Linked DNA regions of Homo sapiens: region 2 is linked to region 1. Evidence: fine-mapped expression QTL. A gene starts in region 1. The other region holds a variant in brackets. All regions are shown on one strand. Distances are between the middles of the regions.

What was found.
Region 2: its variant is fine-mapped to the expression of SMIM26 in blood mononuclear cells (TOPMed, PIP 0.97).

Annotation. Positions count from the first base shown.
Region 1 is chr20:18,561,768-18,578,195 of GRCh38, forward strand. SMIM26 (small integral membrane protein 26) reads left to right here and starts at 5,665. Exons shown (of 2, transcript NM_001348957.2): 1 at 5,665-5,829; 2 at 7,469-7,793. The coding sequence starts at 5,712. The coding sequence ends at 7,638. RefSeq lists an enhancer at 5,353-5,452 and a silencer at 5,516-5,798.
Region 2 is chr20:18,624,738-18,641,165 of GRCh38, forward strand. It overlaps DTD1 (D-aminoacyl-tRNA deacylase 1), which reads left to right. Exons shown (of 6, transcript NM_080820.6): 4 at 3,390-3,496. Among named protein-coding and RNA genes, the nearest start is that of DTD1, 45 kb to the left of the region's middle. The variant A/C (reference allele first, on the strand shown) is at 10,009.

The DNA of each region.
Region 1 (16,428 bases):
TATATTCTGGCCTATTATCATATTTTTTGTCACTAAGTTGATTGTCAAAGCTGAAAGCTCCTAAGAAGCATTTACACAGCCGTGATGATGTAAATATTGTTCCAGTCCAAGCCAGGTAGGATGACATTTTTCTCTAGGGTGCTAGTGTCCCAGTCAGTCCCTATGTCACTTGTAGGAAAACATTCCAAAGGACAGAATCAGAGTTACTTTCTTACATTCCATCATGCCGCATGTTGGTTTGATCCCTATTTGGATTATGATTTCTTAGATTTGCTGTGGTTTTCCCCAGAATTTCTAAATTTTGTTTGCTTTCTGAGAGAAGAAATATTTTGCTTTCTATTTACTAAGAAATTCTAGCCTATTCTACTGAATGAAGTCCATTTTTTTCTTCTTTGGAGGCCACTGATGTCCCCTTTTAAGGGGGGCCAATAACTTTGACCTACTGCACAACTGTCATCCAGGAATTTCTTCTGTTTGGAATCTCGGGTTAGTTCCACTCTTCCCTTTATTCCATAAGGCATTTTGCAATCTCAAATGACTTTTACTAAAAGGAGTACTTGGGGAGAACTCACTGCATCTTAGCATATCTGCAAATCTATTCTGTCTTCACACTTTATAGCTTTGCCAGGTAATATAGTTTGGATATTTGTCCCCTCCAAGTCCGTCATTGAAATGTAATCCCCAGGATTGGAGGTGGGGCCTGGTAGGAGGAGTTTGGGTCATACCGCTGGATCCTTCATGAATGGCTTGGTGCCATCCTCACAGAAATGAGTGAGTTCTTGTCCTGGGTTCAAATGAGGTATGATTGTTTAAAAGTGTGTTGGCTGGGCACAGTGGCTCATGCCTATAATCCCAGCACTTAGGGAGGCTGAGGCGGGCAGATCACCTGAGGTCAGGAGTTTGAGACCAGCCTGGCCAACATGGTGAAACCCCATCTCTACTAAAAATACAAAAATTAGCCGGGTGTGGTGGCTTGCGCCTGTAATCCCAGCTACTCAGGAGGCCGAGGCATGAGAATGGCTTGAACCCAGGAGGCAGAGGTTGCAGTGAGCCGAGATCGCACCACTGCACTCCCTGGGGGACAGAGCGAGACTGTCTCAAAAAAAATTTTTTTAAAGTGTTACCTCCCCCACCTCTTCCTCTCGTTCTTGCCATGTGGTACATCGGGCTACCTCTTCACCTTCTGCCCTGATTGTAAGCTTCCTGAGGCCTTCACCAGAAGCAGATGCTGGCACCATGCGTCCTGTACAGCCTACAGAACCGTAAGCCATAAGCATAAACCGTAAACCTCTTTTTAAAATAAATTACCCAGTCTCGGGTGTTCCATTACAGAGATCCAAAGACAGACTAACCCACTGGGTCTAAAAAGTATAGGCCCAAGATAATCTCAGAACTTTGGAGTCATTCTTTCATTCGTTCAACAAATAACTATCCGGTACTTGTTGTCTATGGAGTAGTCTTCTAGGCATTGGGAATACTGCCAATAAAACAAAAATTCCTGTTTTCATAGAGCTTATGTGTTAGTTAGGGAAGACCAACAATAACAATGTTAGAAGTAAATGATATGGCCGGGCGTGGTGGCTCATGCCTGTAATCCCAGCACTTTGGGAGGCCGAAGTGGGCGGATCACCTGAGGTCAGGAGTTTGAGACCAGCCTGGCCAACATGGCGAAACCCTTTCTCTATTAAAAATACAAAAATTAGCCAGGCATGGTGGTGCACACCTGTAATCCCAGCTACTTGGGAGGCTGAGGCAGGGACAAATTGTTTGAACCCAGGAGATGGAGGTTGCAGTGAGATTGTGCCACTGCACTCCAGCCTGGGCAACAGAACGAGACTCCGTCTCAAAAAAATAAAAAACAAAAAAGAAATGAAGTAAATGATACATTAGAAGGTAATGAGTGCTATGTAGGAAAATGAAGCTGGAAGCTCCTATTAATTGGATGTTGGAACAGCTGGATTGATTGCAATACTCTGTTTTGAATTTGTATTCGAATACAAGTTATTGTATTTCTTTTTGTCTCTGCCCTACATTCTAGCAGAATTCTAGCAGAGTTTCCTATCTTAAAATGTTGAACATTGGCCAGGTGCGGTGGCTCACACCTGTAATCCTAGCACTTTGGGAGGCTGAGGTGGGCAGATCACTTGAGGTCAGGAGTTCAAAACCAGCCTGGCCAACATGGTGAAACCCCATCTCTACTAAAAATATTAAAAAATTAGCCAGGAGTGGTGGTGGGCACCTGTAATCCCAGCTACTTGGGAAGCTGAGGCAGGAGAATCACTTGAACCTCGGAGGTGGAGGTTGCAGTGAGCTGAGGTCACGCCACTATACTCCAGCCTGGGTGACAGAGGGAGACTTCATCTCAAAAAAAAAAAAAAAAAAAAAAGTTGAACATTTACATTTTTCTGTGCGTTTTCCAAGAATATTTTTAGTTTTGGATATAATTTTTAACACATCATATAGAAGAATACATAAAGTTGTCTGTACAGATTAAGGCCAAAACATCCTCTTTGGCTTTTCTGTTTCAAATTAACAGAAAAAAGACTGTGTGATAGACCCAGCTAACTCTGCGGTTCTCTCTAGTGTCAGTGAGTTAAGGAGCTGAGGGAACTGCATGGTATGACATGGCCATGCAGGTCCCACCTTAGGGTACCAGTGACGTTTTTCCACAGAATGTAGGGGGTGGCAGGGTGATAGTGCTGTGTGGAAAACAGCTATCATGAGAAGGGGCCACTGAGCCCAGTATGCCCAGTGAGGACTCTGAACTCCATCTTTTTATTAATTGTTAATTTTTGTGGGTATTGAACTCCATCTTGAAGGTAGGGCAAGCCTCTGACTTATCTTAGGCAGAGGGTGAAATGATAATTTAAGGTTTGAAAGACACTCCAGAGGGGGAAGGATGAGAGGAGACTGTAATCCAAGTGAGAAATGAGGCCTAAACAGAGACAGGGTATTTAGACAGAGGTGACAGAGGATGTCAGGTGAGATGATTCCAAGTTCCTGGCTTGGGCAATTTCTCAATCACTCTCTGAATCAGGGAAGAGAAAGGGAAGGTTTGTTTCCTGTTGGGAGTGGCATTGATAAATTCAATTCGGAACATTTTTTTAGTTTCAGGAGCTTGTGGAATATGCAGCCGAGGATGCATAGCAGGTTGGCAGTAACATGAATTTGCTTTCAGAGAATCTGGAGTAGATTTGAGAGTTATTAACATATAACATAGGTATCATGAGTAAGGCTGATGAGAAGGATGAGAAGAGACGCAAGCTTGAAACAATACCAATTTTTCTGTTTTGTCTATAACTATTGAGCTATAGTTCACATATAATAAACTGCACCCATTTAAAGCATACAATTGGATAAATCTTGACAGAAACCACCACAATAATCAACATACAGAACATTACCATCACCTCTCAAAGTCTCCTCAGACCCTTTTAGCCCTTCCCTCTCTCCATGCCCTTACTGCAGACAACTACTCATCAGCTTTCTCCCACTGGAGTTTGCTTCTAGAATTTCGTGACTGGTTTCTTTGGTGTCTAGCTTGCTTTTTCACTTAGCATAATCCATTTTGAGATTCATCGTATGGTTGTATTTATCAGTAGTTCTTTTTTTTTTTTTTTTTTTTTTTTTTTGAGAAGGAGTCTCACTCTGTCACCCAGGCTGGAGTGCAGTGGTGTAATCTCGGCTCACCACAACCTCCGCCTCCTGGATTCAAGTAATTCTCCTGTCTCAGCCTCTGGAATAGCTGGGATTACAGGCGCCCGCCACCATGCCCGGCTAATTTTTGTATTTTTAGTGGAGACGAGGTTTCACCATGTTGGCCAGGCTGGTCTCGATCTCCTGACTTGAGGTGACCCACCCATCTTGGCCTCCCAAAGTGCTGGGATTACAGGTGTGAGCCACCCGTACCCAGCCAGTAGTTCCTTTTTATTTGTAAGTGGTATCCCACGTTTTGTTTAGCCATTTACTCGATGGGTATTGGGGGTGGTTTCTATTTTTTCCTATTAAGAATAAAACTATGAACATTCATGTACATGGCTGTGTGCAGACACAGGTTTTCATTTCTCATGGATAACTAGAAACGGAATGCCTGGGTTATATGGTAGGCATATGTTCAACTTTTTAAAAACTAAGTTTTGCAAAGAGATTGTAACATTTTATGTTCCCATCAATAACAGTTCCAATTATTCCAAATCCTTACAGCTCTTGGCATTCTCAATCTGATTTTAGCCATTCTAGTAGGTGTGTAATGGTCTCTTATTGTATTCTTTTAATGTCCATTTCTGTGATGACTAATGATGCTACTGTGCTTATTGGTCATTTGTATATCTTCTTTCGTTCTATTCAAATTTATTGCCTGGTTTTTAGTTGGGCTGTATTTTTATAACTGAGTTGTAAAGCGTCCTCATATATTCTGGATCCAAGTCCTTTTGTTAGATATATGTTATTATGAATATTTTATTCTGTGGCTTGGCTTTTCATTTTCTCAACTGTGACCTTCAAAGAGCAAAAATTTTAATTTTTTTTTAAAAGCCCTATTTATCCATTTTCGCTTTATGCATATATATATAAAATGAGATGGGGTCTCACTATGTTGGCCTTGCTGGTCTGGAACTCTTGGGTTCAAGCAATCCTCCCTGCTCTACCTCCCAAAGTGCTGGGGTTACAGGCATGAGCCACCCCGCTTGGGATGCCTTTTTTATTCTAAGAATTCTGTGCTTATTCCAAGATGGCAAACATATTCTCCTGGTTTTTTTCTAGGCTTATATTAAATAGTTTTAGCTTTTACATTTAAGTCAGCGATCCATTCAGAGTTAAGTTTTTTATCTATTTCTGTAGGGCAGAACATCAGTTTTTAAAGGGTGGGCAAGGTGAAAAGAACCCTGAAGGATACCAGGGAAAATGATGTTTCTGAAGCCATGAAAGGTGCAGGTGGGGTCAGTGGTGGCAAATGCTTTCGAAACCAAGTTTGAGTGTGGCTGAAAAGTACTTAACGTTAATTTACCGGGCCTACCTTGTGCCAAGCACATCACACTTGCTCTTAAGTTGTTCAGTCTATTGAGGGCATCTTGCTTTAAAAAATGTATGCATAAGACAAAAGCTGGAGGTGGTCGGAGTCGAAGGAGATTTTTTGTTTTTGAGACATGGGCACGTTTGTATGAAGGATAAACGTCAATAATGAAGATGGGGGAGGACTTAGGGTGTCAATGAGGGGAAAGGCCACTGAGGCTGGAAAAAATAGTACCCAGAGCCTAGTGGAGGGATTAGCTTTGGCCTGGAAGTATTTAAAGTTCACCCAGAGTTCCGGAAAGAAAAATGGAGGAAAAGAAGAGTTGCGGGGAGAGACAAGCGGTATCCCTGCAAATCTGAAAACTGGAAGAGGAATTGGAAGTAACCTTTTCGGATACCGTCTGGAGCCCACGAAGGCATTACAATTTTGCAAGTGAGAAGCTTCTCCTCTAAGTTGTCATTTAGTCCTCGTCACGTGGTAAAAAGTATCGCACGCCCACAGTTCTACACCCGAAAGTCCGGACACCTGAGCGACTTTCCGGGCCAGAGGCCCCAAGGTGCATCGGGGCAGAGCCGGAAGCGGACGCTGAAAACTGGCGGCTCCTTAATGGTTCCGGCGGCAGGGACCGCAGCGACGCCCTCACCGGAAGTCCCGCCTCTGCCGTGGGCCTGCGAGAATCGAGGCACTCGCTGGCGTACCCATGTATCGAAATGAGTTCACGGCCTGGTACCGGCGGATGTCGGTGGTCTACGGGATCGGCACCTGGTCTGTGTTGGGCTCACTGCTTTACTATAGCCGGACAATGGCGAAGTCGTCAGGTAGGGCTCTTCGGCGGGGCCTGCCCCGGAACACACGGCCTTCGATGAGAGTTCCCCGGGGGTCATGGAAACAACTTCCCTGTCCTTTAAATCCCAGGTTTATTCTGCAAAACTAATTGAAACGGGTGCTAACAGCCGTTTGTTATAATGGAATCTGCAAAGAACTAGACTCCAGGAATTATTAATACCTTGTAAATATTGTTTCCTAAATCTGAATCATTTACTGGATAGGGCCGTCCCCATATTCAGAATTGGAGGAATCTGTGTAAAGTGCAAGGTGGACTTTCAGAGACTCTGGCCGGTGATTTTTAAAGAGTGATGCTTCAGTACTACTGTCCCTCATCGTATATGGCGAGCAATTTCAGTACTTTTAGCAGCCAAGGCGTATTAAAATCTTCCAGTTACTAAGCGCAAAGGGAGAAAAGTCTCTCAGCTTTGAAAAATATGCTGGAAATCTGTAGAGACATTAAGTTGATTAGTGTGGTTGCTAGGGGCTGAGGGGTTGGGGAGTTGGGGAATGACTGCCAAAGGTATGGATTCCTTTTGTGGATGAAAGTATTTTTAAATTGATTGTGGTGCTGGTTGCACAAATCTGAATATACTAAAAACATTAAATTGTATATTTTAAGTGGGTTAATCGTATATGTTAATTATATCTCAGTAAAGTTGTTGTGTAAAAACTATGCTGAAGATTACATTTGGTGATGAAGCTGTCAGTGGCCTGAAAGTACATGTGTCCAGCATTAAGCATTTAAAAACATTTTGGCCGGGTGCAGTGGCTCACGCCTGTAATCCCATAACTTTGGGAGGCCGAGGTGGGAGATTGCTTGAGCCCAGGGGTTCGGGACCAGCCTGGGCAACATGGGGAGACCCCCATCTCTACCAAAAGAAAAAGAAATTTTTATATATAATATTTTATATTTACTTTATATGTAATATATGGTAAAAATACTTTACATTTATATATAAAGTAAAAATATTTTAATGTCCATATTTATGTTTTCTTTCTTTCGTTCTTTTTTTTTTTCTTTTTGACAAGGTCTCACCCTGTCGCCCAGGCTTGAGTGCAGTGGCATGATCTCGGCTCACCACAACCTGCGTCTCCGGGCTCAAGTGATTCTCCTGCCTCAGCCTCCCGAGTAGCTGGGATTGCAGGCGCAGGCCACTGCTGCCCGGCGAATTGTTTTATTTTTTTTTTGAGACAGAGTCTAGCTCTGTCGCCCAGGCTGGAGTGCACTGGCGCTATCTTGGCTCACTGTAACCTCCATCTCCCAACTCAAGCAGTCCTCCTGCCTCATCCTCCCCAGTAGCTGGGGTTATAGGCCCATGCCACCACGCCCAGCTAATTTTTGTATTTTTAGTAGAGATGGGGTTTCACTACGTTGGCGAGGCTGGTCTCAAACACCTGACCTCAGGTGGTCCACCTGCCTCGGCCCCCACAAAGTGAGATTGGGATTACAGGCGTGAGCCACCGCACCCAGCTTTTCTTTTCCCTTCCTTTTCATTCCTTCCTTCATTATTGGGGTTGGAGAGAGTGGATGTAATTCTTACCTTAGTTAATTTCTAAGACTTTAATGACTGCTTTCTAAGTTAATAATTCAGGTGTTCTTTTTTTTTTTTTCTCTTAATGGTGATAAAGTAGACCAAAAGGATGGCTCAGCAAGTGAAGTACCCAGTGAACTCTCTGAACGCCCAAAAGGATTTTATGTGGAAACAGTTGTCACATATAAAGAAGATTTTGTTCCAAATACAGAAAAGATCCTCAACTATTGGAAATCATGGACTGGTGGCCCTGGTACAGAACCATGACTGGCTGCTGAATTCTGAAAACCAGGACTTGGTTCAACATTTAAATTTGATAGTTGCCCTGATTCCCATTTTGGGTTTGTGAAAAGTGTATGTATTTAAATTTGCTGTAAAACATAATCACTAATAATATGCAATAAATATTTTCTTGAAGGAAACTATCTGCGTTTTCTTTTTTTTTTTTTTTTTTGAGACGGAGTCTTGCTGTGTCACCCAGGCTGGAGTGCAGTGGCTCGATCTCGGCTCACTGCAAGCTCCGCCTCCCAGGTTCATGCCATTCTCCTGCCTCAGCCTCCCGAGTAGCTGGGACTAAAGGCGCCTGCCACCATGTCTGGCTAATTTTTTGTGTTTTCAGTGGAGACAGGGTTTCACCGTGTTAGCCAGGATGGTCTCCATCTCCTGACCTTGTGATCCGCCTGCCTCAGCCTCCCAAAGTGCTGGGATTACAGGTGTGAGCCACGGTCCCCGGCCTACTATCTGCATTTTCAAGAGGTGTTCCTCTGTATTTGCATGAGTGAAAGATTGCTGTGAAATTTCACATAGAGCTTCCATAAGCTTGATTTCCTGAAACTAGTTAATGTAGATTTATATTTCTTTCATGTTGCTATTAGGCACAGCTTTAGTGGTCGCTTTAAGGTTAGTTTCAGCAAATCTCCATATTCACTTTGGGATTCACAGTAGCCCTTTGGGTACTACTGCGTACTGGGTAAGTATGATATAAATTTGATTGTAACTTCTGAATTAAACAGACTGGACCTATTCTTTAGGACCAGTGCACATACCCCTCATTCCTTCAGCAAGTGTGGATTACCCACCAACTGTGGCCAGTGCTATTCTAATGCTGGGAATGCAGTCAGGACGACATGATTGATGCTGAACCAGTTTCCTCAGTGGTCTCTTGGTTGCAGGCAACAAACACAAGTGAGCTTAAATCAAAAGTGGGTGTTTATAAAAAACGTGTATTGGTAGCTCAGAATTAAAGCAGAGAGTATGGGCCAGGAGCGGTGGCTCACGCCTGTACTCCCTGCACTTTGGGAGGCCGAGGGGCGGATCACAAGGTCAAGAGATCGAGACCGTCTTGGCCAGCATGGTGAAACCCTGTCTCTATTAAAAATACAAAAATTAGCTGGGCATGGCACCGCGCACCTGTAGTCCCAGCTACTTGGGAGGCTGAGGCAGGAGAATCGCTTGAATCTGGGAGGCGGAGGTTGCAGTGAGCTGAGATCGCACCACTGCACTCCAGCCTGTTGACAGCGAGATTCCATCTCAAAAAAAAAAAAAAAAAGCAGTATGTTGTCTTCAGAAGGCCTGACACTGGGACCAGAATGCAGGCAGCCACTTGTTGAGCCTGCCTGGGCTCTTGGCCTTGCTTTTCTTATTGCACACCAGCTGCTTTTCTCACCTTTCTGGAGTAATACAAATATCCCAAGAAGATACTACCTCCCATGTGCAGTGCCAAAGTCTGACCAGCCTCTCCTCAACCTGGTCTTTGGCTTCCACCCTTGCGAGAGACTCAGTTCAGTTTTTATCAGATCCCTGCCTATGGATTATAGAGTACTGCCTCAGTTATGAATAAAGTGGCATTTGTTTCTCATTTAGGTAGTGTTTTCCTGTTCATAGCTGTTGGGACCCTGTGAGTAGAGATGTGATGTGTGGTAGGACAGGAATTGGGCATTTCAGGGTTCCTCTACAGTACTATGACCTTCAGACCCTCATCTTGATTTCTCATTGGTGTCAGTTCCACCATTATGGGTGGCCTGAGCAGTGCTGTGGTGCAGTCAGCCTTAGTGACAAGGATTCCAAAATCACAAGTAACAGCTCCAGATGCTGGTAGCAGAGACTCAGCTTCCCAAGGGATATCAGGTCAAGCATGGATTCGTGCCAATTGGCTGTGTATTCCAGTGGACCATCTTGGTTGGCATCAAACTGATGAATGAGAAGCAGTGTACGACAGTAGATGGGGAAGGTGAGAAGCAAGTGAATCAGAAGTATGGGAGAAATGGGAACAGTAGCATGAACGTTTTGGAAGACATTTCCTAACATGAGGGCTTCCAGAGAAACAAAGGGCAAGGGCTGAGGGGCTGTGGCACTTGGCAGGTGAGAGTTGTTAATAGAGCACACCGAGGATAAACAGCTGAACTTCTACTCTCACCTGGCAGTCTACCCAGGATTCATACACTTGTGGGGCTTAAGGGGACATTTGGGTTAGCTTTCCTTGGGACTTGGCTGGGTTTCTTTGCTAGATCTAATTTATTCTCTTATTTCAGCCCAGCGTTCTCCTGAACTCAAGATCCATGTCCATCTAGCATTGCCACTTGGATATCTAGCCACCTCAGCTTTGTCCATAACTTAAATTGCTGTCATCACCCACAAGGCTGCTCTTCCTTCCGTTCTCTTTCTCAGAGAGTACTCAGTTCCTCAAATTAGGAACCTATCATTCTAGACTTCTCCCTCTTCTTGTTCCTTCTCCTTCCTCCAGCCACCAGGTCCCATCATTTCTACTGCAAATATTCCACTCCATTCCCACCTTCCCATTCCCTTTACCACTACCTTACTTAAATCCTCCATCCTCTTTGCTTATGTAGCCTCAACTTCCTACTCTCTTTGTCTCTACTTGGAGTCCCCTCCAATTGGTTTCTACAGTATTAGCCAGCATGACTTTTTTGAAATTAATTTTTATATTTTTAACAAAGCAACAAATGCATTAAAAAATTAAATAATGATCAAAAGTTTGTAACCAAAAAAACAGTTCCTGCTTTATCCCTCCTTGCTTTCAACTATTAGGTTTTTTTTTTTTTTTTTTTGGTATTTACGTCCACATTTCTAAATAATAAGCTTTTACTAATATCTTTAATTTATCAATCATGTATGGGATTTATTAATGAGGATTTGATCCTCCTTTCCAACTGACTAACCAATAAAACTATTGCATATTTTTGATGAATCAATAATTAATATTTACCCTGTTTTAACTATGCAAACATAGTTTGTTGATAAGCCAAGTAAGTGAGCTATAATTGTTTCTCATATAACTTTTCTTTCTGGAGTTAACTGCACTCTTTTTTTCATTTGCTTTGTTTTCTTGATGTTTCTCTCTCATTCTTTCCACATCCTCTAACCTCACAATATAATTTTCCACACAAACCTTTCCAGTTTCTCTTTTCTGTTTTTAAATCTTGGAGCTCTTTGTCTTCTTGGTACAATCTGGACTGATCACTCTAGTTCTGCTTTGCATCCATTTTTCTTTGCTATTTGCTTTGCCATCCTATAATGGATCTCTGTTTTCTCGATACTGTGTCCCCATAATTCTGAAAAAGGGTATATAATTTTTTGGTGATTTTTCATGTCTGAACATGTCTTTTTTTTTTTGAGACAGTTTCGCTCTGTCACCGAGGCTGGAGTGCAGTGGTGCGATCTCGGCTCACTGCAACCTCCGCTTCCCAAGTTCAAGCAATTCTCATGCCTGAGCCTCCCGAGTAGCTGGGACTACAGGCCTGCGCCATCACACCCAGCTAATTTTGCATTTTTAGTAGAGATGGGGTTTCGCCATATTGGCCAGGCTGGTCTCAAACTCCTGGCCTCAAGTGATCCGCCTGCCTCCACCTCCCAAAGTGCTGGGATTATGGGCATGAGCCAGTGTACCCGACCAGAACATGTCTTTTTCGTATTCTCATACTCAATTACTAGTTGGCCTGGGTACAGAACCCCAGGTTTGATCATTACTTTCCCTCAGAATTTTGAAAGCATCAGTCCCCTGTATTCTAGCAATTCCAATATTTCAGCTGAGAAGTCCTAATCTTTGATTATTACCTGTTTTCTTCTCTCCAGAAGGTCTTAGGACCTCCTTCATCTCTAGTGTTCTGAAATTTTTACAATGATGCACCTAGTGTGGCTTAAAAAAATTGACTAGGCTGATCACTCAGTGGGTTCTTAGTTCATGGAAACTCTTGTTTTGTTCTGGGGAATTTTCTTATTTTTTAGGAATTCCGTTTGCCTTTTAATTTTTTTTCTCTGTGTCTGGAATTCCTAATAGACATTCCAGACTACTTTTTATTATTTTATACTTTTTCTTAACTACTGTTGATCTCTTTGTTTATTTTCTACTTTTCAGGGAGAGGGTCATTCATTTACTTATACACTTGTGAAGGCGGCAAAATTTTACCTATACTTTTTAGGGTTTGTGGCTGGGCCTGAGAATTAAATTGACATAAAACAGATTAGCCAAAGTAAAGTGTACAGATTCTTACATGCACTTGGGAGCCCCCATAGAAAAATGGAGACCCAAAGTGGCAAAACCTAACTGGTTATATACTGAGTTAAACAAAAAGAGGCAATTATGGAAAAGGAACTAAAATGTACAGGAAACCAGAGGAGGATAAGAGTTATTTAAACAAGGCCTGTTTGTATAGAATTATCTCGACCTTGACTCTCCATCTCTGGTGATAAGAATGGTTCTTTCCTCCTGGTATAGGGAGGGCATCTTCCACATGGCAGTTTTATCTCTTGCTTGCTTTTTTTTTTTTTTTTTTTTTTTTTGGAGACAGAGTCTTGCTCTGTCGCGCAGGCTGGAGTGCAGTGGCATGATCTCAGTTCCCTGCAACCCCCGCATCCTGAGTTTAAGCAATTCTCCTGTCTCAGCCTTCTGAGTAGCTGGGATTATAGGCACACACCACCACACCCAGCTAAATTTTGTATTTTTAGTAGAGACGGGGTTTCACTATGTTGGCCAGGCTGGTCTCAAACTCCTGACCTCAGGTGATCCACCCGCCTCTGCCTCCCAAAGTGCTGGGATTACAGGCGTGAGCCACCGCGTCCGGCCTATCTCCTCTTCAAAAAGAAAAGAGGAGGTCAGATCACCCTTCCTGCACCTGCTATTTTTCAAGTGTCTTTAGCTCGAAATAAATTTTATGCCAAAGTGGCATATTTTTTGGTGGTGTATCCCACCATCCTTCACATTCAACAGATAGCTACTGAGCCCCTACCTTGGGTGTGGAGGACAAAGCAAATCCATCTTGGACGCTGATCTGCCATGTTGGATTCTGATTAACCCTTGTTCCATGAAGGCCTCTAAGATTTGCAGCTTATCTATTGTTCCTTGTGTAAGAGCATGTCCTTACAGTCAATCCTGCCCTTAGATCCAACAACCTTGATGTTATTGTACTTCAGTTGTCCCACATATCCCTGCTGAACCACCCTTCCCTAGAGTATAAAAGCCCTGGGTCTGCGGGGTGATGGCTCAGGGATCCGCCATCTTGCCTGGCAGCCACCCAAGACACAGACACGGCTTCTGTTCCTACGTCCCTATTAAGTGTTTCTTTCTAAGAAACCAGATTTGTCAGCCTCCTTTTTGGCCTCTCGGCTTCCTTAGACTTTGGGGCCAGTTTGTATAGCCCTGCCTACCATGGGATGCTGGGCCAGCATTGCTCTGTGTGCTGAGTACTATATAAACAAGGCCCTCAAGCAGTTCTATCTTCCAGCGGAGAAACAGACAACAAAAACTAAGCAAATACATTATGTCTTATATAATACAACTTTTTTTTTTTTTTTTTTTTTTGAGATGGGGTTTTGCTATATTGCCCAGGCTGGTCTCGAACTTCTAGGCTCAAGTGAACCTCCCACTTCAGCCTCCTGAGTAGCTGGAGCTACTGGTGTGCACCACTGTGCCTGGCTGTAATCCAACTTTTTAATTGCATTTTAATATTGGCTATTATAGAAAGCTCTTGTAAATTAGTTCCTTTTTATGGTATCCTATTCATTGATGAATACAACATTTTCTGATGGCTGGAGGTATTCTAAGTTGTTTTACTATTTATTCTTGCACTGCTATAAGTTCCTTTACATGACTTGTTTTTGTCTCTCTCAAGTTGGAGGCATTTGTCTCATGTCCCTTCTTATTGTACAGGCATTGATTTAAGAACCTTTCACGAACCTTCTGCAGCTTGAGGATGGGGGTAGGTGTTTGTTAAGTTATGACTGGCTTTTTACTGGTGGTTGGTGTTGAAGTTAGGATTCTTAGCTACACACCACAGAACTGGAGCCAGTTCATGCTGAAAAGGAACCTTGCAAAGGATATTGGGAAACTCCCAGAATTAGGGGGATCATTGGGGAAACATAGTTACAGACAGCGCAGCCAGGAATGGCACCCCAAGTATCCTGCCAGACCACCACCAGGTACAGGCACTGTGGGGTCATGCTGACAAAATAGGCTGTTCCTGCCGGGCCCCTGCCTCCAGTACCTCTGAGAGCAGGGAGTTTCTGAAGACCCCACATCAGAATGGCTTCCCGGAGCAGCCTGCTTATCGTCACTCGTCTCCGAATCTAGTTTCACATGGGGATGCCTAACTCAGGGTGTGTTGGTCACACTCCTGGGCCTTAGCTGCAATTAAGTCTGGGAAAGAATTTCTGGCTTCTACTGTGGGGATATATGGAGTTTTAAGGTAAGAAGTTCCCCAAATATAGGATGTTCACAAAATGCTGGAAAGACAAATACCATGACAAATGTCCACTAGAGACAGCAAGGCAGATATTTTTAGTGGGAGGTACTGACATGCCAGCATCTGTCAATCAGTTCCCAGGAGAAGGGTCCTCTCTCCAGTCTCCCACAGGGATCGAGGGTAGATGCCTGGCTGTAGGAATCCTGGGAACTAGACTGGGGAGGGGTTTGGAGATGGTTGTTTAGAATAAGGGTTTCCATTGAATCCGGGGCCACATCCCCCTCCTCTGCTCTGGCCAGAGCAGAAACTTCAGGTTTCCTGAGTGAAGTGCAGGAAGTTGGGGTGGGTACCTGGGGGTCCAAGTGTTGCTTCTGCAGACTCAAACATCTCTCTGCGTCCAGCCCACCCTTCACCCTGCCTCCACCCACCTGGAATTTTGGTATGTGTTATGTAGAGTGTGTCTATATTTTAAAATCCCCAATAAAAAAACTTAAATTTTGAGTCTCTGTTGAGCTACCCTGGTAGGCCACACTTGAAAAGTGTTGTCAGGCTGGGTGTGGTGGCTCACGCTTGTAATCCCAGCACTTTGGGAGGCCAAGGCAGGTGGATCACTTGAGGTCAGGAGTTCGAGACCAGCCTGCCAACATGGTGAAACCCCTTCTCTACTAAAAATACAAAAATTAGCTGGGCATGGTGGTGCATGCCTGTAATCTCAGCTACTTGGGAGGCTGAGGCAGGAGAATCACTTGAACCCAGGAAGCAGAGGTTGCAGTGAGCTGACAGAGTGAGACTCCATCTCAAAAAAAAAAAAATAAATCAATGCTAGAGGAAAAGAATGTGTCCCTTCCCATAGGAAGAGGGCTTTGGAAGCCTGTGCCTGTTTTCCTTCAGACTTTGCCCCGTGCACTTCTTGTCTTTGCTGATTTTGTTTTGTATCCTTTTGCTGTAATAAACCACCAACGTGACAATAACTATATGCTGAACCCTGTGAGTCCTCCCAGCAAATCACTGAACCTGGGGGTAGTCTTGGGGACCCTGGACATGCTATGCAGGCAAAGGCTACCCAGCTATGGAAGGAATACTATTATAGTCCCACTCTATTATAGTCCCACTCTATATCTGTGACATATAGAGGCTCAGGATTGTCAAGTATACTTTTCAAAAGTTAAAAACATGAGTCAAATACAAGAATGAGCAAATGTCAAATATTTGTTCAAGTCATAAATGAGAAAACCAGCAGCACGGTAAAGCTGATTCAAAGAAGAAGAAAGGACCAGAGGTTATTTAGGCACTGGAGAAAAAAGAGTTAGAATAAGATTTCTGGTTAATGTTCTAGCGGGGATAAAGCCCTAAATTTTGGGTTATTATTTTTTAATGGACAGAAATTATTTTTATTTTTATCCAACAAAAGTTTACAAGTTAACATGAACCTTCACAAAATCCAAGCCTTTAATTAAAAGTAGGTGACGGTGCCTGGCTAACACAGTGAGACCCCGTCTCTACAAAAAATTAAAAAATCAGTGGGGTGCAGTGGTGCGTACCCGTAGTCCCAGCTACTTAGGAGACTAAGGTGGGAGATTGCTTGAGCCTGGGAATTCAAGGCTACAGTGAACAATGATCACACCACTGTACTCCAGCCTGGGTGACAGAGCAAGACCCTGCCTCAAAAAAAAAAAAAAAAAATGTTGGCCAGGTGCTCTGGCTCACGCTTGTAATCCCAGCACTTTGGGAGGCCGAGGTGGGCTGATCACTTGAGGTCAGGAGTTTGAGACCAACCTGGCCAACATGGCAAAACCACGTCTTTACTAAAAATACAAATGTTAGCCGGGCATGGTGGAACGTAATCCCAGCTACTTGGGAGGCCGAGGCAGGAGGAACACTTGCACCCAGGAAGCGGAGGTTGCAGTGAGCTGAGATCACGCCACTGCACTCCAGACTGGGAAACAGATCGAGACTCCGTCTCAAAAAAAAAAGTAGATGATGAGTCAAACAAAGGTACCCTAATTAATTAAATATCCTAATTAATTAAATAATTCTTGAGTGAGCCCATTAAACACAGTGCCCCAAGATGACATTGAAAGAACTCACTACGTTTTTTGCTTTAGATTCCAAGTTTCCGATTTTTTCCCGTAACAGTATCCTGATGGAATTTGGTCATTGGAGGTCCCAGGACTCGGTTGGTTGCTCAGTGGCCGGGCCTGCCCTGTAGTTGCTGCCTCACCAAACACTGTAGGTGAATCAAAGTAACATCCAAGGTGAGGAGGTATTTTGAGTGCATTTTCTGGCAGGACACGTGTAGTTGGGGACCAGGCACGTGGAGTTCACAGAGACTTTCTGGTGATTTCAAATCAGAGGACCA
Region 2 (16,428 bases), 63 kb after region 1:
AGATGTCTGAGCAAAGTTTGATAATCAGGGAGCTCCTTGCCTTGGATCTCCTGTTATGCAAGAAGGCTACCTTAATTGCCTTGAATTTATGACCTCAGGATGTAGGCATAGTTGGGAATTTAACTTCCCAGCTAAAGGTAAACTTTGGTCCTAGACATTTACCGTCGTAATGTTTGTTTCTTCTCATGGCTTTGACACTCTTTAGTTTGGAATTGAGGGTGGCCCTGTTAGTGAAAGGTGCCCTCACTTTTCCATAGTTAGGTATTTTGGGTCCTCCAATCCTTCTTGCTACAAAGTTCCAGGCTTGAGACACTTGTTTCCAAGAAATGAATCTGTTGTAGACACCGCCCTCAGATGTAGATACCACCTCTGCGCTGTTGCAGAGCCAAGTGGAGAACCCTGATAAGGGGAGCCCAAAGCCTGGGAAGAAGCCACAAGAGCCCCAGGTCTGCCTTTCCACTTCCCTCCATGGCCCTGAGTGTGGCATGCAGTCAGACCTAGGCCTAGCCCTCAAACTGTGAGAAAATCAGCTGCCAGGGCCTGAAGGGCCTGTAATACACCCATTTGCTGACAAAACAGATATTTTCACCACCAAGTCACTTAGGACTTGTCATTCCTAGAGCTACTGGTCTCTGCCTAAGGCCCCAGAGCCCTTGCCTCAGCTTTCCAGGCACCTTTGAGCCAGGCGTCTGCTGCTGTGTTGTCCCAGTGGTGGTTCACTGGCACTGGCCCAGCCTCTGGGGCACTGGGGATGCCAAGGAACACTCCTGTCTCTGTAGAAGCAGCCCTGTACTTGAGGTCAGAACCACCATGGATGCTAGCGGCTTCCAGAGTCATACTCCCAAAGGCTCTAGGCACAATCCTGCGCATCCAGATCAAACTCCTCTAGCAGGCAGTGGCTCCAGCCTGGCCCCAGGCTTATTTTGAACCCCTCAATGCCACTGATTTGCTTAATTTCTTGAGGTCCCAGCCTGTAACCCACTGTTGGGGTTTCCATCAGTAACAGCCTCCTGCCTGCTCAGGTTCTGAACAGATTGAAAGTAGAATGAAGAGGAAGCCTGTGGGGTGAGAATGCCTCCTTGGTGGCAGATAACTGCCTTTAGGGGATGTGCTTAGATGGGCTGACCTGAGGCTTACTGTCTAGTGCCCATGTCCCATACTGGTCCCCAAAGGTTGGCTGAGGTCCAGCCCATTCATGGCCACACAGGGCCAGCTCTGGAGAGCAGCGAATGTGGGCTTGCTCCCAGCCAGGCCAAGAAGCATTGGTACACGCCTTTTGTTCTCCCCATTTTTCTTTCAGAGTATACTTTTTTGGCATAATATTTTTCTGTCCCATCCCTGCAATTTGCGCATATACTACCATGGACAGTGGTAGGCATGACAATAGTAATAATAGTGACTATGATTTCCTGTACACTCACTGTGCTGGGCTGTGTACTAACCTATGTGCACCTTTGTAACCATCCCAGGACAACTGTCCTGTTGCACCAGAACAAACTGGGGCCCGGAGAGGTGGTGTGAGCCTTCTTGGCTGGTGGCTAAAGTCAGTGAAGCATTGTCCAGAGGGGCATGGACACCAGTTTTTGTAGCTACACAGAGAATCTGCAGGGAGGCACTCTGGTTTACAGCTGTTAGGGCCTTGAAAAGTTCTGCTGGAGATGAGTTCATGGGTGGTTAGTCTCCAGCTGAGAGCTTTCCTGCTTTAAACATGCAGCATAAGCGTGTCTAACATGTGCTTAACCTGCAGCTCTGGGTAGAAAGAAAGCTGGGACTTAATATTTAAGAACAACTTGATTATATCACCATAGGAGCCCAGATGTCATTTTATAGATATGCTTTTGTGTGAGTGTGTGTTTTTTTTAAAATGTGTTTATTTTCTCTGGTTAGTATAATTCTTTTTGGGCGCTTTACCCTTTGATCTGGACTGGAAAAAAATGTTACCATTTTAAGATCTCTTAAAACATGTCTTTGGATTTATCATCTGTACGGATGGAAATTCACATAATAGTTCTATTCTTAACTGAAGAAAAACAGGAAAAGAAAATAAATTTCTCACTACTTGGAATGATAAACAAGGTGAAGCATATACTGTATATCCTGGCAACAGAAATTCAAGGTCGGAAATAATTCCTGTCCTCTTGAGCCTGCCTTCAGCCTCCCTGAGGAGTGCAGTGACTGAAATTTTCTACTAATTGTAGCCATAATTTTAGCATGCAATTAAACACATGATTTCCTTCCCAGCTGATGTCTTTTTAGTTAGTCTGACATGGATGAGACAAAAGCTCTGTTGATTTGAACGGCCACTTTAATCTGATAGGAGGTCACGGAAAGTCATCATTTTTTGAGCACCTTTGACTATCCAGTAGGATCTAGATTAATCTTGCTTATAAACATGGCCAACAGCTTGGGTGCTTCTAATACAATTTCCAATGCTACTGTCTGTGGGCCAAAGAAAGCTGTCTGTTGGCATGCCCATTTTGCTGAGTCCTTCTGAAGTTAGGGACCCACTGGTAGGAAAGACTCAGAGAAGGAATTTGTGAGGTTGTGGTGGCAGGAACAGAGACTCATGGAGGTCACCCAGGTTGCGGAAGGACCTCAGGGTGTGAGGCCTGCCTGTGCCGCAGTAGCCCAAAAGCAGTGCCTTCCATGGAGGGAGATGGAGGGCTTCACTGCATGCAGTGCAAACATGGCCTTCCAGAATGCTCTGTGTTTGCCTTCCCACCATGTACAGTCCCGGTAACCCACATTCTTTCCCACCCTTGGTGTTACCAGACCTTTTATTTCTTGCCAAATCTGTTGGGCACGCAGCAGCCTCTGTGCTACTTAATCCTGCATTTCCATCCCTCTTACAAGGCTGGCTAACTTTTCCTGTGTTGAGTGGCTGATCCTCCTCCCGGTCAACCTCCTTCTCCCACTGTGACCCGGGTTTTGGATCACGCTGATCTAGGTGTGTGATATGGTTTGGCTGTGCCCCACCCAAATCTCATCTTGAATTGTAACTCTCACAATTCATATGTTTTGTGGGAGGAACCTGGTAGGAGGTAATTGAATCATGGGGGCGGGTCTTTCCTGTGCTGTTCTCGTGATAGTGAATAAGTCTCACGAGATCTGATGGTTTTAAAAACGGGAGTTTCCCTGCACAAGCTCTCTCTCTTTTTGCCTACTGCCATCCATGTAAGATCTGATTTGCTTCTCCTTGCCTTCCGCCATGATTGTGAGGCCTTCCCAGCCGTGAGGAACTGTGAGTCCGTTAAACCTCTTTCTTTTGTAAGTTTCCCAGTATTGAGTATGTCTTTATTAGCAGTGTGAAAATGAACTAATACAGTGTGCTTTTGGATGGAGTAATCTGGTGTCTCCATCTTTGGTAACTGTTTGGATTGCTTTTTCAGATGGCAAGTTTGGGGCCTACATGCAGGTGCACATTCAGAATGATGGGCCTGTGACCATAGAGCTGGAATCGCCAGCTCCCGGCACTGCTACCTCTGACCCAAAGCAGGTAAGCCTGGAGTCTGGTGCCTGGCTCCGTCCCTTGGGTGCCTGTAACATCCCTTTAGTCCCTGGAAGAGTCCTCGGTCTGAGGAAATACATCATTGTTGCAACGTTGTATTTATTTTAATACCTGCCTTCCCAAGAGTGCATGTTTACGGTGCACTCCTGAGTACTGTGGCCGGTGGGTACAGCACTTCTCCCTTGCCTCGTCCTGCCTTTGAATTCCAGAGGACATGTCCTGTGCAGAGCCAGGTTCTTCCCCTGGGCTTCCCTTCCCTTGGCCAGGTGCCGTGGCGCCCACCTGCCCCTGGGTGGCAGCAGAGCAATGGCCCTGGATTGGCCGGTTCACCCATTCCGAATGGTTACCTGAATTGGGTTTGGTCCCAGGTGTGGATAGATGTGCCCCCCAAGGTTTGCTGTAAATCTCCATTTTTCTAAAGCAGTGTCTGACCTGGATTTGCTGCCAATTTGTAAGCTCTCATGAAATAAAAGTTAATTAAAATAGAGAAAGGAAATGTGTAATAGTCCTTGGAACCCGCGTGGTCTCATAGATGCTTAGCATACTTGTAAAGGCTTAATTAACACACTCACTGGATAGAGACACGTAGGGCCTGGCAGGCAGAGGAAGAAGGACTGAGCAAACATTTCCATTCTTCCTTCCCAGTCTCCCTCCCTTGCTAGCATGCTGTGATGGCCAGTGATGCGGCAGTAAGGGGACAGCGTGATAGAAACGTGAAGCTGGGCAACCTGTTCAAAGCCTGATTTTTTTTTTTTTTTTTTTTTTTTTGAGATGGAGTCTCGCTCTTGTTGCCCAGGCTGGAGCACAATGGCGCCATCTTGGCTCACCGCAACCTCCGCCTCCTGGGTTCAAGCAATTCTCCTGCCTCAGCCTCTCGAATAGCTGGGATTACAGGCGCCCACCACCATACCCTGCTAATTTTGTATTTTTAGTAGAGACGGGGTTTCTCCATGTTGGTCAGGCTGGTCTCAAACTCCTGACCTCAGGTGATCTGCCTGCCACGGCCTCCCAAAGTGCTGGGATTACAGGTGTAATCCCACTGTGCTCGGCCTTTTTTTTTTTTTTTTTTTTTTGAGACAGGGTCTTGCTCTGTCACCCAGGCTGGAGTGCAGTGGTGCGATCATGGCTCACTCCAGCCTCGACCTCCCAGGCTCAAGTGATCCTCCTACCTCAGCCTCCTAAGTAGCTGGGACTACAGGCATACGCTACCATGCTGGGCTAATTTTTGAATTTGTGTAGAGAGGGAGTTTTACCATGTTGCCCAGGGTGGTCTTGAACTCCTGGGCTCAACTGATCCACCTAGGGCCTCAGCCTCCCAAAGTGCTGAGATTACAGGCAAGAGTCACCATGCCTGGCCAAAGCCAGATTTTTAAAGTGGAACATAATCTTTCTTTTTTGTTTCTGTATTAGTTTATTCTCATACTGCTATAAAGAAATACCTGAGACAGGGTAATTTATTAAAAAAAAGAGGTTTAATTGGCTCACAGTTCTGCAGGCTGTGCAGGAAGGATGGCTGCAGAGGCCTCAGGAAACTTACAATCATGGTGGAAGGTGAAGGGGAAGCAGGCACATCTTCACATGGCCAGAGCAGAAATAAGAGAAAGCAGGGGGATGTACTACACATTTTTAAACAACCAGATCTCATGAGAACTCACTGTCACGAGAACAGCAAGGGGGAAGTCTACCCCCATGATCCAGTCACCTCCCACCAGGCCCCTCCTCCAATGCTGGGGATTCCAATTCAACATGAGATTTGGGTGGGGACACAAATCCAAACCATAGCAGTTTCTGACTCTTTTTGTATTGAGGAACATGTCTGATGTAGTAGGCTAGACTTCAGTGGTAGTAACTGAGGGTCTTGGAATGACTAATGACATTAAAAAAATCACAAATGAAAAGTCCACATGAAAATGTAAGCTTTTTATTGTGAAATAATTTGAGACTTACAGAAAAGTTGAAAAAACAGAGTTTCCATATACTTTTTAACCCAACTGCCTCTAGTTTCAATGTCTACATAACCATAGTACAATGACCAAGACTTTGAAATTAATGTTGATATAGTACTATTATATTAACTATATTACAAACCTTATTTGAAGTTCACTAGGTTTTTTGTTTGTTTGTTTGTTTTTCAGACGGATTCTCGCTCTGTCTCCCAGGCTGGAGTGCAGTGGCGCGATCTCCGTTCATTGCAAGCTCCACCTCCCGGGTTCATGCCATTCTTCGGCCTAAGCCTCCCAAGTAGCTGGGACTATAGGCACGTGCCACCATGCCCGGCTAATTTTTTTGTATTTTTTTAGTAGAGACGGGGTTTTACCATGTTAGCCAGGATGGTCTCGATCTCCTGCCCTGGTGATCCACCCGCCTCGGCCTCCCAAAGTGCTGGGATTACAGGTGTGAACTACCGCGCCCAGCCAAAGTTCACTAGGTTTTTTAAATGTCTTTTTTCTGCTCCGGGATAATGCAGGATTCCACACGGCATTTAGTTGTCATTTCTGCTTAGTCTTCTCCAATCTGTGACAGTTCCTCAGCCTTTCCTTGTCTTTTGTGACATTGATACTTTTCAAGAGTACTAGTCTACTGTTTTGTAGAATGTTTCTCACTTTGGGTTTTCTATGATTATATTGAGGTAATACATGTTGACAGGAATAGGAAATAGCACAGAAGTGATCTTGTGCCCTTCATAGTGCATCCTACCAGGAGGTATGTGGTATTGATTTGTCTTGTTACCTGTGATACCAGCCTTATTACTTGGTTCAGGTGAAGTCTACCAGATACCTCCATGTTAGATGAAGTGCTAACCTCTTTCCCCTTGTCTGTCCTCTGGCTCATTCACAGCAGACAGCTCTCTCTCAGCTTTGCAGGGAAAGAAGCCAGCAGATGGCATTGACTCTGCTTCTCTATCCCCCTTCTGCCACCGTGGTAGCAGAGCTACCCTTTCCTGGGCTGAGTCCAGCCTCTCCCTGGGGCCAGGACCAGCTACATAATTTGAGAGGCCCAGTGTAAAATGAAAATGTGGGGCCCCTTGTTCAAAAAATATTACAAATTTCAAGGTGGTGACATAGAGCATAAAACGAAAGGTGGGGCCCCTCTGAAGATGGGGCCTGTGTGACTGCTCGGCTGTGGGTCTAGACTGACCTGGGCTTTGGAGCCCTTCCCTTCCACCTCCTCAGCAGCTTCCTGGAAGCCTCTGTCCTCTTGTTGGTTCTGTCTGCCTCTCACAGTCATCCATCTTATCCCATTGGGTTTTAAATATGCCCAAATGTCTCCAATTGAGAAATGCTTCCATTTCCTCCCTTCTGCTCTGCCACAGTGTCCTTGGGTCTGTAAAGGTTCTCACCGAGGGCCCCAGTGACCTCACATTGCTTTATTTCATGCCCATTTTTCAGAACACTTTTCTTGCCACTGCTGCCCACTTTTGCCCCTGGAAATGGCTGGAGCCTTGTTTCCCAGGACGTCATTCTCTCTGGGTTTTTGTCTTGCCTCTGGCTACTCCCTCTGGTTTTATTTGATCATTATTCCATAGTTTTTAGTTATTATTCTGCTTTAACTCTATTTGGAGAAAAATTTTAGTCTTTTTTTCATTCTAAATATTTTTCTGGAAATGGTAGAATAGTACATTTTGCCTTTAGAATCTTCACCTTTCTTTCAACCAGTACCCTCTTCTTGTTTAGGTCAAAGGGTACAAAGATGCAGTTATTTTGGGTGAGTAAGTCTCAAGATCTAATGTACACCATAAGGAGTGCAGTATCATATTGTGCACTGGGAGTAGATTTAGGAATTCTCAGCACACACAGAATAAAGGACGGTAACTGTGTGAGATGCTGGACATGTAATTTACTTGACTGTAGTAATCACTTCACTATGTGTATGTAGATCAGAGCATCATGCTGTACACCTTATACAATAAATCCCTCTCCCCAAATCAAAAAATCCTCAAGTAGGCATTTTTTAAACTTCTAACGAGCCATGTTAACTTATAAGGATTAAAAAAGACTTTTAGTTATTTCTGAATCCTTTAGGAGTTTTCTCCTCAAATACACAAATTGTCTTGCATCAACTTCATTTACATGGACCAGTTTCCTGGCCCCCAGAAGCCTCAGACCCTGAACATTGCACTGCGCTCTGCCCCTAGCTCTCCAGTAGGTGGCGGTGGGTAGGCGCAGAAGCGGCCTGTGTTAGGTTGGTGCTGGCCTGTGCCTGGGGCCTCTCTCTGCCTTTTCTTCTGAATTAGAAGGAGTTTCCTCTTGGAGCAAATAGCTAATTTGCTTGCTTTTGTGTTGATAGGAGGAGCACAGCCAAATTCTTTTTACTGATAGATAAACACGTGTTTCTATCAATTAAGCTTTTAATTCTCAGTGTTTTATTTTTCCATTATATTCCAATCAGTAATGAAAACTGCTACAATTACATTAAAGAAAAATGGTTCTTTTGGCAAATTTCAACGTTATAGAAAAATGATTCTTTTAGCAGGTTCTTTTAAAATATAAATAAGTTCTTTAAACTATCTGAACAAATGGATGATGTGTGTGTGTATATGGATGTATATGTGTGCATGGGTATGTGTGCATATGTGTATGTGTGTGTATGTGTGTGTGTATATGTGATGTGTGTGCCCATGTGCATGTGCATGTGGGTATGTGTGCATGCATTTGTGTATGTATGTAAGCACCAAGTGTCGTTTTGGTATTTGATGGTGTGCTAGGCACTGTGAGGAAGAGAAGGAACTGCTGCTGCCCAGCCTGTGCAGCCGGGGATAGATTTTGGGCAACATAAACCTGAAAGGTTAATGACAGTGAAAGAGGTGGACAGCATAAGACAACTTAGGAAAGGTTACAAGACCATTCAGTTTGTGCTCCTCCTTAGAACTCTTCAGTGCCTTCCAAGTGCATTTTGCTGAAGCCTTGCATTCCTTGCTGTCATTTGCCAAGGCCTAAGTGACCAGGCGTCCGTGGCCCTTTCTTGCCTGCTCTGTGGCTGTCTTTCCCTCCATCCCTATGCTTCACCTACTGCATCTGCTGTTGCCTCCTCTCCCTTGCTGAGAAGAGGGTCAAGCTCTTTCCTACCTCGGAGCTCTTGTCTCAATTCCAGGGTCTCCCCCTCCTTCTCCAAGAATCTCTGACCCCCACAGTTCCCAGGAAGCCCCTTCGGCTACTCTACTCTGCCCTGTTGCTCTGATGGTGTATTTCACAGACTTCACACCATCTGCTATCATGGTCCACACCACTCATAAAACTCAAGCTCCCTGAGTGTTGTTCACTGCCCTGTCCAGGGAGGTGTGTGTGGGTGGGAGGGGTGGTGTTTGTTTAGCAGTGGTGCTCACAGCTGGTGGGCTGTGGTGTCTATGAATGTCCTGAGTTCAGAGAAGGCCATTGTCACTGCTGTTGCCTCTCAGCCGAGTGGGCCTCCCAGGGGACCGGAGGTTTTAGCTGACCTTTAAGGATATGGAAAGTAGAAGGGATTCCCAATTATTGTTTTCAAATTTCTACTTCAAATAAGGGTAGATTCTTATTTTCAAGAATCTCAGAGCTCTACTTATGTGATGCAGCTACTGCTGGTGAAGACTGAGCTGGTAAAGGTAACCAGCAGTTTGCCTTTCTAACTGGACCGCTGCTTGTTTGCAGAACTGGCTGCTGCAGCATCTGCATGCTTTCCATGCAGCATACCCATCACATTATAGGCTGCTGCGTGGGTTTCATGCTATGTCCTGGCAGTGATAAGTTGGAAGGAGAGCATTACATTCTTGCTCCAAATGACATATTTCCAAAGGGAACAGGACATGGAAGCAGCAGCAGAACCAACTGACTGCTGTTTTGCCTGGTGCATTTTTTGCAGGAGAACACGATTCTGGTAGGAACATCCTGCTTATTATTACCTAGTGCATGATTGCTGGTGCATGAGCTCTTCCATTGGTGGCTAGATATTGGGAGATTTTAACACCCTAGCCTGCCATTTCTGTGATAGAAGCTTATTCTTGTCTTGTTTTAATCTTAAGTGCTCTTTCTCTGCGTAGGGCTTGTTTTCCTGAGCCTCACATGGATTGGGGGGCAGATGGAGGTTTTTCCTGGTGAGAAGGGCCATTGGTAATTGAAGGACTCTTCCCTGGGGCCTAGGGCCCACTTAGTTCATAGTGTTGCCATTAATTATTTACATTCTCATTTATTTAGTGCCATCGAAGCCCTCATTAAATTGAAATGCTGGAAGGAGCTAAAAAAATGAACTTTCAAGTATACATGTTTGAGTTAACGGACGTGTTTATTGACAAATCACTGGGATGAGTTGGCTAGCGAAACACGGTGCCTTCAATTTTACGGAGCTATTAATTTTACGCTCCTCTGAGTATCACCGTTGCTCTGTCCATAATTTTCTCTGTATACTTGTCTTATCAGCAAGCATTAATCCCTGAGCCTGGACCTTGGAATGTCAAGATTGAGACATTCATGGCTTTTGTAGGATCTGAAAGAAATATGTAGGGTAAGGGGGTGTGGGGGAAAAGAATT[A/C]CATTTGGTTTTATTTATTTATACTTCCAGTGACAGGGGCAGCCTTTTGATTACCTGCTGTGGAATCCAGAGGTGAAATGAAGGACACATGAGCACACAGGTGGCTTGCTTCTACCAGGTGGCCCCATCACAGGTGCACAGAGGGGAGCTCTCACTTGCTGCATATTTCAGTTTGGGGGACAAATCAAATGAGAAGTACTCTGAATATAAGGAAGAATTATGTTGTTGCTAATAACTTTGCATCTCTTCATGGAAGAACAGTTATTTAAATGTACTCCTTTTCACTCTGTTTTTAGGCTTGAATTCTAGATTCTAGCTCCCTAATTGTGGTTGGTTTCAGCTTCAGTGTTCACATGGCCTGAACCAAGCTCGAGTTGTTGACTTGCTGCAGGAGTATGTTTTAAAGTCTGGTTGCCAAGATGGTAGCCAGATCTTGTCAATTACTCCAGAAATATTAGTTCATTTTGTCATATTAATTTATTGAACAAACGCTGACTGAGGGTCCAGCTTTGTTTATGCTGAAGTATCACCAAAACAGAAGTGGGAACTCAGCAAAGCGTCCTCATTACAGAGTTGTTGCTGTTGTGCAGTCTTTGTCAGTGACGCTGACTTCTGGGACGTAGGCTGCCACATGGAAGGCCTCCTACCAGGGCTAGGGCGCCACCTGGCCAGACCTCTCACCACACATGGAATCACCTGGATTTCTGATCCTTTCTGTCTGAGCACCTGCTTTCCATGAATTATGAGATCAGCTCAGCCCTCTGGGGAGTGAGTTGGGTGTAGAGATGGTGGAGCTCCTGACCTCACTCAGCCCAGCCCACTGCTCTGCACAGTCAGAATTTATCCTGAGTCCTTGTCAGTGCCTGGGGGAATGCCTGCCTATTGCATGAATATTTGGTATGAAAGGGTGGGAGCTTAGTAGATGTTTTTCTTCCTGGTGGAGAGCTGTAAGGGATCACTTTTATCACTTTAATTTGTTTCCAAATAGATGGTTGTCCTAAGTCAGCTCATAGTGGGCTTAAAAAGAAGCCTTTACAAGGCTGGCATGACTGTCTCTTTGTTGGGGACCCATTGATGAATTGATTAATCAATTGACTTTCACCTTACCATCTTAAATCCATAGCACAGGTTAAGGAAATTGCAAAAATTGAAAAGAGTTTTTTTCTCTTCTACTGGAATATGTCTGGTAAATTAAAAACTAGGATCTGTTTCTTTTCTACCATTGACACATAAGACATTTCTAATCTCCAACCAGAGCAAAATATCTGTTTTGCTTTAAACCAGTCTCTCAGGACACTAATGGGGTAGTGCATTTAAGGTTTAAGGGCTTTATTTGTTTGTTCCTGTATATGTGTTTTGGGCAGATTCCTAGTTATTTTAATCTTATAATCTCATTTGTGTGTGTGTTAAAAAAAAACGAACTCCTTACCTTGCTGACTTGACCTGCCAAAGATTAACAGCATCCTTTTTATTCTGAAGGGAGAGAGGTAGAGTTTTTCCTTCCATGGATTTATACATTGTGCATAGCAATAATTTAGTTAAACAGACTCAGTATTTTAATTGGGAATTCTTAGCTTGTTAAGTGATTTACCAGGAGCTTCACAGTCCCGGGTAATTGTAGAAAAATGTTCTGCCAGTCAGTGGTGTTTTGCAGAAAACCTTGCCGAAACATTTGCTTTAGTAATGGAGAGAGAATGAAAGATCTGGAAGTGATAGAATTCTAAAAAATGCAGCACTTGCTATACTTTTTTTACAGGCATAGATAAAACCCTTATCTACACAGAGGTGTTTGCCAGCTTGCCGCAGTATAGGTGTAGTCTGTAATGACTGATGAGGTAGTTATCTTTTTTAATCTTAAAGAGAAGGTTAGGATGGGTCAGTGGGGTGTGAGTTGGATCAAGTAGACTCTTAGGGGCTCACAGACTGGCCTGAGCTTATCCCACAAGTTTTGTATGTGTGGATGTGTGCAAGTGCCTTTTGCTGGGAAAAAGGGGACCAGGACTTTTGTCACATTCTCTGGAGGTCCCAAGAAGTGAAGAGGCTGGTGGACTGGGGACTGTTGTGTGCAGAGATTACACATTCTTTCTCTATCAAAGTTATCCAGGGGTTGGTGGTAGTGTTCCTCAAACGGCAGACTGAGGACCACTGGCATCAAGCCACCCATGGTGCTTACTAAAATGCAGGGTCCTGGGCCCACCCAGGTTTTCTGAGCCAGAGTTCCTGGAGTGTCTGGATGAGGAAGGCAGAAGAGTAGCCCATTTATGTTTCTAACCAGGTCTTTGTGTGCTCCTAAGCACACTGACATTTGGGAACTACTGGAATAGAGAGAATCAGGCCTTGCAGTGATCATCTGCTCCAGGTGTTGGTTTCTTCTGGACCACCCTGCCCTCCCTTCCTCACCCCCAACTGTCTAAAAATACTTTACAACCTATGTTACTGCAGCTGCCAGGAAACAAGATGGCTTTGCTTGATTATTGAGGTCACATGTGAGTCTGTTCTTATTCATCAACGAGCCCTCAGTCTCCCAACACCCCTTCCCCCTGCCACACAGGCAGTGATGAAAATGTTTCCAGAATATGGTGCCTTCTCAACGCAATTACAGATGTGTCAGGGAAAAGCCGATGCAGCAACAACAGCTCAATATGTTAGTGACTGATGATCAGCCGCTCTACTGGGTGACATTGAGGCATATGCTGGGGTAATAACTTTTTTCCTAGGAGAGATGAGCCCAACATGTGGATTGCTCAATGAGTGTGCAAGATTGTAGCAGTGTAGCCACTTTAAGACTTGTAGTTGAAAGTAATTTATAGTTTTCTTGGCTTTCTGAGTACCAGACATGGAATGCCTTACTCATCTGTCGAAGTGTTAATGGAACTAGAATAAAAACCCAGGGTGATCGACATCTTAGCCTCTGCATGGAAATTGTAGTTTAATGAAATTCATGAATGTGGAGGCTTCCATGGGCAGTTAGCTGATCATTTACATTTAAACACACATGGGAAATTGTTAAGGGCTCATATTTTATGATGTATTATTACCTATTCAGTTCATGGTAAAAGCTTTTCACAATGAATTGTAGACTAGTTTCCTGCAGATTATTTATTGTTTCATGAATAAGTATCACAATTTTTTCTCCTTTGTGTCTCTGCTCATCCACCTGAAATGAACTCCTTCCCTGTCTCTACCTGCTGACATCTTCCCCATCTTTTAAGGTTCATTTCAGATAGGTAGCTCTTCACACATGATGCTTACCTCAGTGCCCATCCAGGCGAGGCCTTTCTTCCTGCCTTTGGCTCCCCATCACGTGGTGTGGCAAGGATTTCGTAGTGGTAATGCCCTTGAATAAAAAGCTCATGCTCATTTGTTTGTTTGCTTGCTTGTTCATTTATCCATTTATCCATCCACCCATATGTCCCTCCATCTGCCCATCCATCCATCCATCCATCCATCCATCCATCCATCCATCCATCTATCCATCCACTCACCTGTCCACTACCTACTCATCCAATACCTTTATCCAGCAGATTATTATTGGGTGCTTGCTCTGTGCTGGCCCTGCATGTAGGTCCAGCACTGAAACAACATTGTACCCTCATGAAGCTTCCATTCTAGTGGAGAAACAAACAAAAACAAAAACAAGTATAATTTAAAATTCTGATGATATAAAGAAATCAAACAGGGTTAGGTGTAGAGAATGCTGTTGGCTAGAAGTCCCCTTAGGTGCAAGCGCTAGGGAAGGATGCTGAGATAAGAGGGAGCCAGTGAAGACTGAAGGAAGAGTGCCAGACAGAGGGGTCAGCAGATGCAGAGCTCTAGGGTGACTGGTGGAAGAAAGGCCAGTGTGGCTGGAGCTTGGAGGGTGACAGGGAGAGGGGCAGAACCTGAGGCCAGAGCTGTGACCTGGGGTTGATGGAACAAGGCCTCATGGGCCAAGGTAAGGAATTTGGCTTTTATTGTTAGTAAGCCAAAGACCTGTTAGAATGTTGAGAGCTCTGATTTGTGTTTGCAGAGATGGATGAGACTGGGTTTAGTGTAGGCTCAGGATCGGGGGATGTGTGGCTTGTGACAGGGTGGCAGAGAGGGCATTTAGGAGCTGTGGAAAGATTCTGGATACACTTTGGAGGCCCTCAACCACTCTCATATTCTGCCTTCCACAGTAGAGCTTTTCTGTCAGTGACTCATGTTTGGTTCTTTCATACTGTGGCTTGAGCATTAGAGAGTAATATTGTAAAGTTCAACCTCCCACAGTTCACTGCAGGAATGACCCCATTCTTGCCTCCAAGGCCAGCATGGTGGAGGGATTCCATGGCATGAGTTTCTATGATGACATCAGACATTGGACATCAAGGAGTGCGATGCTCACCCCTGGTTTTTAGTGATCCTTGGGCACAGTCTGGACACAAAAGCCAGAACTTGTTTGATGGTTTTTTTTTTAAGAAAAAAAAAAAAAAAAGCAAGCAAGTTCAGGGAAGCAGTCTCCTTTTTCCTGGTCAACATGAAGCCAAGTGTTTCACTATTGCCCAGTTTTCCCCCAAATACAAAAACATTAATTTTAAAAAGATACTGTAAAAAGCCCAAGAAACATGTATATTGAATTTGATTTATGTATACTATTGTAGCTAATATTTTCAGGGAAATTTCTAAATGTCTGTCATAGGAGCTTGTCAGAAAAAGAAAGATTTATTTTTGGAAAAGTATGTTTCCTGGTGTTCATTGAGCTTGGAAATTATGGAAAGTCATTGTCAGAAGGGAGGCAGCTGCTCCAGAGGCGGAGTGGAAGTCAGGACTGGAGAAGGTTGTCCTACTGTGGGCTCCAGCGTGCCTCTTGCTGCTAGCTGGTCAAGAGTCTCGCAGCAGCCACTTTATACCTCACTAGCTCCACCATCGCAATTATTTCTGTCAAAACGAAACACAAAAGAATGGCATGTCTATGAATATTCTTCACAGAAAATATATTCGTTTGACTATTTTCCATAAAATGTGAAGTCAATTTCTTTTTCTATTTTTAATCATGAAAGTGAAGCCCGGAAGCCTCAATTTCTTTGTAATGGAAAGATCTGAGTTTGTGGCCTTGTTTCCATTTTCCACTTCTCCTTTGCTAAGTCAGGAACATGATACTCACATAATATCCCCCGGGCAGTGGCTCTGTTCAGGAATTGCATGGCTGTTTGACTGCAGAGGGAGGGCAAAGGCTATTATTAACCATTCGTGTCATTGTTGGGTCATGAAACCTTCAGGGGATAAGTATAAGTTCTATAAAATTTCATTTTGAAATCCAGACCAGATCTGGCCTTATGCTCTGAGGATTTTTTTTTTTTTTTAAGTTTCATGTTGTCCCTTTGCCCCCCTTCATTTTCTCTTGGGAAGAGTCTCTTATTATCATAATTACTACTTGAAAAAAAATTCCAAGCAAGAAAGCAGTGTATTAACTGGAAAGTAACAATTTAGAAATGTTATTTTTTAATAGTAAGCTTTTATAGTATTCCTGGGTAGAAAGGTATTTTTATAGAAACAGTTATTTTCCTATCTTTTTTCTCATGAGTCCATAAAATAGCATTTTTATATCAATTTTTGTTATATCTAATACATAAAATCAGTATTCTTTTAAGAATTTAGAAGTTTAAGATACACTAAAAATATTTTTGACAATAACTCTCATTCTCAGAGGTAGCGCCGTTAATAAGTTCTATGTATTTACTTCCAGACTTAACAAAAATATGTTTACCCACATTTACACATGGTATCTCTGGGTGGGTATATGTCAGAAGATTTTTTTAAATTGTGTTTAATTATACATAACCTAAAATTTTTAGGTATACAGTTTCGTGGCATTAGTATATTCACATTGTTATGCAACTTTTATTATCACCATCTATCTGCAGAATTTTTTTTTTTTTTTTTTTAAGACGGAGTCTCGCTCTGTCACCCAGGCTGGAGTACAGTGGAGTGATCTCAGCTCACTGCAACCTCCATCTCCCAGATTCAAGCAATTCTCCTGCCTCAGCCTCCCGAGTAGCTGGGATTACAGGCATGCGTCACCGTGCCTGACTAATTTTTGTATTTTTAGTAGAGATGAGGTTTCACCATGTTGGCCAGGCTGATCTCAAACTCCTGACCTCAAGTGATCTACCCGCTTCGGCCTCCCAAAGTGCTGGGATTACAGGTGTGAGCCACTGCTCCCAGCCTATCTACAGAATTCTTTTTATCTTACAAAACTGAAACTTTACCCTTAAGTAGTAATTCCCGATTCTCTTCTCCCTTCAGCCACTGGCAACGGCCCTTCTATAATACTTTCTGCCTTTTGAATTTGACCACTCTGAGTATCATATGAATAATCATATGGTATTTGTCCCTTTGTGACTGGCTTATGTCACTTAGCATAATTTCTTCAAGATTCATCCATGTTGAGCCTTATGTTCA